2 separate regions of the Homo sapiens genome follow, and region 1 is linked to region 2. A link means that fine-mapping ties the variant in region 2 to the expression of a gene that starts in the linked region. Tissue or cell type: whole blood. Region 2 holds a variant in brackets; the other region holds the start of a gene. All regions are shown on one strand. Distances are between the middles of the regions.

Region 1 (2,684 bases), 75 kb before region 2:
TCTTGAGTCTTAGCTTAAGGTTCAAGGAAGCCTTTCTTAGTTTTTTTTTTTTTTGAGATGGAGTTTCACTTTTGTTGCCCATGTTGGAGTGCAATGGCTCACTGCAACCTCCACCTCCCGAGTTCAAGTGACTGTCCTGCCTCAGCTTCCCAAGTAGTTAGGATTACAGGCATGCCCAAATACACCTGGCTAATTTTTGTATTTTTAGTAGAGACGGGGTTTCACCATGTTGGCCAGGTTGGTCTTGAACTCCTGACCTCAGGTGATCCGCCCGCCTCAGCCTCCCAAAGTGCTGGGATTACAGGCATGAGCCACCGTGCCCAGCCAGGAGGATCTCTCGAGCCCGGAAGTGTGAGACTAGCTGTGGTGATAGTGAGACCTGTCTAAAAAAACCAAAATTAGCCTGGGGGTGGTGGTTCACGCCTGTAATCCCAGCACTTTGGGAGGCTGAGGCGGGTGGATCACCTAAGGTCAGGAGTTCGAGAGCAGCCTGGCCAACATGGTGAAACCCTGTCTCTACTAAAAATACAAAAATCAGCCAGGCGTGGTGGCGCGCGCCTTGTAATCCCAGCTACTTGGGAGGCTGAGGCAGGAGAATCGCTTGAACCCGGGAGGCGGAGGCTGCAGTGAGCCAAGATCATGCCACTGCACTCCAGCCTGGCAACAGAGGGAGACTCTATCTCAAAAAAAAAAAAAAACACAAAAAACAAAACACCACTTATATTTATTATGCGTTGATAAAAACATTAAATACATTAAAAATTTGGTAACATGTATGTAAAGTATAAAAAAAAAAGTGAACTTCCTAAACCCACCACTCAGCTCCAGTAGTAAATCGTTATACAGTGAGAAGGGATTGAAGGGGAACAGAAGTTCCCCAAGACCAGTTGGGAGGCTATTCATAGTCTTGGGCAGAGAGATTACAGGGTCTTGGGTAGGGTGGTAGAGTTACAACGAAAGAGAATGTTGGCCTCAAGTGATATTTAGGTGGAAAACTGGACTTGGATTGTCACTAGCTAGTGTGACTGAGATAAGTCTCAAGCCTTCCCTGCCTCAGTTTCTTCATCTGTAAAATGGGCTAGAAATAACTACTGTTATTTTGTATACCCAGCACTTAGCACATGGGTTGGCACAAAGATGGCACACACAAACATCATAGTCACTATTGTGATTAATAGGGAAGCTCATACACGCCGGCAGAATGAATATTCTGTCAAACTTGGGGTTGAAATTCGCCATCTTCTGGGGCAGGAAAGTGATGGACGACTGTGCCTTTGCAAGAATCGACGCCCACACTGCCCAGGAAGTGCCCTCGCGGGCCGGGGTCCCAGCCCGGACCAGCCCCGCCCCGCCCCGCCCCGCCCTCATCCCTGGGAGCTCCGCCCCGAGGCCGCGCGCGCCGCCGCGCGCGCCCCGACGCGCCCAGCTGCTGACGTGCGGGGCGGAACGCGCCGGGCGGGCTCCACCGCGCCGTGTGCTTCCGCAGGTTGCGGGGGTCGCTGGGGCCTTGTGGCGGGGCAGCTCCGCGGGGCTTCGCCCGCTCTCTCACCTCGCCGTGCTCTCTCGCGGCGGCCGGCGGGGCCCGCGCTGCAGCCGGAGACCCGGAGAAAGGGTGAGTGTTGGCGGGCGCAGGAAGGGACCGGCCGGGAGCGCGCCCCGCTCTCCGGGGCATTGTTTGGGCGGGGGCGGCGCGGGCACGTGCGCGCCCCTCCCCCATCGGCAGGCAGCGCGGCAGCGGGACCCGGTGAGGCCCCGGGGCCGAGGGGAGGGCAGGGAGGATCCCAGGTGCGGGCCGGGGAGCCGCAGAAGCGGGAGCCTGGAATTGGAACGTGAGTTGGGGGCTTCCTCTTCAGCGGGGCGCTGCGCTGAGGGGATACGGGACCCCGAGCCACAGCGGCCGGAGCTTTTAGGATGTTAAGCTCTTGGCCTTGGAGGCAAGATTTGGCCCCAGCACCAGAAAGTCGTGGGTTTACCGAAAGGATCCTGGAATGCCCCTCCAACCTGTCGCCATCCCCACCGGGCCTCCCTGGGATGGAGGGGAGGGGTCAGAGAGGCTTTGGGGGTCCAGGGATGGGGCCGGGGCCAACGCGCCGGAGCTGCGGGCAGTGCGGGGCGGAGTGGAAGCCTCGGAAAGTGAGGACTCCTGCAGGAAAGGCTGGCTTGAAGGGCTGTGGCCAGACTGCAGAAGACAATGAGGTTTTCTCCATCATGAATGTGATTATGTTAAGAAATAGAAACCAGAGGAAGAGAAATGCCATCAGCAATCTTACAGGCCTGACACATCATTTTTTTTTAGTTTGATGTTGGCTAGTATTTTCATCTAAGCATTCAGCAGTTACAGAGTTGACCCACGTTTTCCATTCCCTTTTCTCGCTCACATGTAAAAAATGCGGTATAATATTATATAGAATTCAGCAATATCATTTCCCCTTTCTTAATGAGTAGAGGGTATTCAGCGTAGAAAAATTTAAAAATACAAGCAAAGCCAGAGAAAAATGCCCGCAGTTTTACGATCTAGAGATACTACCCTTGGATGTATATTCCTGTTTGTGTATACTCTTTAAAAGATAGGGCAGATGATGCCCTGATAAGGAGTTTAGTTTTTCCCGGGAAGCCTTTGAAGGTTTTGAGAAGGCGAGTAGCATGATCCGACTGCTATGTAGAGGAAGAGGGCTGGGGAGGAA
Region 2 (2,684 bases):
ACACTGCTCCAGTTTGCCATTCATTCAGTGTTTAATTTAACATCCTACTGTTGACTTTGTTTTAAAAACACTCCTGAGTATTTTCTTAAAAGAATTCATTTTACTTTTGGAACTAGATACTTCTAATTTTCATTATTTGGGTACTGGGGTCTTTTTTTTTTTTAATAGTTAAATATTATTCTTGCCTTTTTTTTTTTTTTTTTTTTTTCTTTTCTTAGGGTCTTGCTCTGTCACCCAGGCTGGAGGGCAGTGGTGTGATCACGGCTCAGTGCAGCCTTGAACTCCTAGGCTCAAGGGATCCTCCCCTGCCTCAGCCTCCTGAATAGCTGGGACTACAGATGTGTGCCACTGTACTGGCTAATTTTTTTTTTTTTTTTTTTTTTTTTTTAGACAGAGTCTCACTCTGTCACCCAGGCTGGAGTGCAGTGGCATGATCTTGGCTCACTGCAACCTCCACATCCTAGGTTCAGGGGATTCTCCTACCTCAGCCTCCAGAGTAGCTGGGACTACAGGTGTGTGCCACCATGCCCAGCTAATTTTTGTATTTTTAGTAGAGATTGGATTTCACCATGTTGGCCAGGCTGGTCTCGAACTCCTGACCACAAATGCTCCTCCTGCCTTGGCCTCCCAAAGTGCTGGGATTACAGGCATGAGCCACCACGCCCGGCCAAACTTTTTTCTTTATACTTCTGAATTTCCCAAATTTTCTATTAAAGTAAATTATAAAAAGTAGCTGAGGCAAGACAACAATTGTTAAGCTTCTATTATTGTAATACCCAAGTGTAAGAAATACAGTTGCCGTTCACACCTGTGTAGGTAGCTTTCCTAGATGACTGAATTAGGCTGCATGTATTATGTGCAGGCCTTTGTTTTGCTCTCTGCCAAAACGGTGACTGCTGTTCTAAGAGCTCTCGAAGCACCGTTGGACTCTGCTCTGTTTTGAACAGGTTGTCGGGGTACCAGTTGGGTCTGCTTTACCTTCAACAGTGAAGCAGGCTGTGGCGATCAGTGGTGGCCAGATCCTGGTAGCCAAGGCCAGCTCTTCTGTCTCCAAAGCAGTTGGGCCAAAGCAAGTTGTAACCCAAGGAGTTGCCAAAGCAATTGTGAGTGGAGGTGGAGGAACCATTGTTGCTCAGCCAGTGCAGACCTTAACCAAGGCCCAGGTTACTGCCGCTGGTCCTCAGAAGAGTGGATCCCAGGGTTCAGGTAAAACGGATCATCACTGGGAGCCCTTTCAGCAGAAGCTCTGTCCAAAATTTCCTTTGCTAGTGATTTTATTTGCTATTTGATCTGGTCTAGGAAAGCCTAGTTAGGTTGATGCTGTAAGAAGTGTATTGAAATGTTTGTTCTTTTTTATGGGACATTTTACATAAAGGTCTGTGAGTATTTAGCTTTAAATTTACACACACACACACACACAC[C/A]CACATACACACACACACACGAACAAATCATTTCTCAGTACTGTGGGGGATTGGTTCCAGGACCCCCTGCTGCAGATAGCAAAATCCACAGATGCTAATCCACAGTCCCCTGTGTAAAATGCTGTACTGTTTACGTATAACCTATGTACATCCTCTGATGTACTTTACTTTATATCATCTCTAGGTTATCTTAATACCTAATAACAATGTAAATAACAATGTAATAACAATGTATATGCTATGTAAATAGTTGTTACACTGTGTTGTTTAAGGAATAATGACAAGAAAAAAGTCTGTACATGTTCAGTACAGATGTACTCATCCTTTTGTCTGCCAAATATATGGATATTTTTTATCTGAGGTAGGTTACATCCATGGATGTGAAATCCACAGATACAGAGGGCCAATGGTACTTGCCAGTTAGGAGCACACATTTGCCCTAACTTTGACTTTAAACAAATGGGGGAAAATATGTAATCCTCCATAGACAGGGTGATTATTTCATTAATCGTCCAAACCACAGTACTTTGGAGAGTAAAAAGAGTCATTATTAATAATTATAGTGGGACAGGTGTAACCTAGAACTGTTCTGGGCAGAACCAGGACGTACGATCATCCTATTATATACAGATATAAAGAGCCTCTGGCAGGCTCTTCTGGTCTATAAATTATTTTTTAATTAGCAAGATATTTAAGAATATCAGTCTTTAAAGCATTGTGCATCTGGGAAACAAACTTTGAATTTATTGCTTGTTAGTGTTCTAAAATAAGAATTTATTGCCTTGTATTTTAATTTTAGAGTGTTGCCCTTAGTTTCAATTTATCTTACAATTTTTTCTCCTTTACCATTTTAGTAATGGCAACGTTGCAGCTACCAGCCACTAATTTGGCCAACTTGGCAAATTTGCCTCCTGGCACTAAACTCTACCTAACTACAAACAGCAAGAACCCTTCAGGAAAAGGAAAACTGCTGCTGATCCCTCAAGGAGCCATCCTGCGAGCTACGAACAATGCTAGTTAGTGAAACCATTGGGTTGAATCATTTGGTTCTTGGTTCTCTATGTGTGTTCATCTTGTCCATCTGAGGGCAGTTCTTACCTGTTTCAGGAAGCATTTCTGTAACTCTGTTGGGTGGTGTAATGGTAGCATTTGCTCAGATGGATTTAACACATACGATAATTTAACTAGAAGTGGGTTTGCTCCTCAGCGTTTGCAATCAGAGATGAATCACTCTGGAGAGAGATGGCTGGTGAGGCTGTTGGG

Evidence for each region. PIP is the estimated chance that this variant, and not a neighbour inherited with it, causes the effect.
Region 1: it holds the start of YEATS2, and the variant in region 2 is fine-mapped to the expression of YEATS2 in whole blood (TOPMed, PIP above 0.99).

What each region holds. Positions count from the first base shown.
Region 1 is chr3:183,696,382-183,699,065 of GRCh38, forward strand. It overlaps YEATS2 (YEATS domain containing 2), which reads left to right and starts at 1,416. Exons shown (of 31, transcript NM_018023.5): 1 at 1,416-1,612. RefSeq lists a silencer at 1,321-1,790.
Region 2 is chr3:183,771,358-183,774,041 of GRCh38, forward strand. YEATS2 (YEATS domain containing 2) reads left to right here. Exons shown (of 31, transcript NM_018023.5): 16 at 948-1,206; 17 at 2,276-2,437. Among named protein-coding and RNA genes, the nearest start is that of YEATS2-AS1, 38 kb to the right of the region's middle. The variant C/A (reference allele first, on the strand shown) is at 1,422.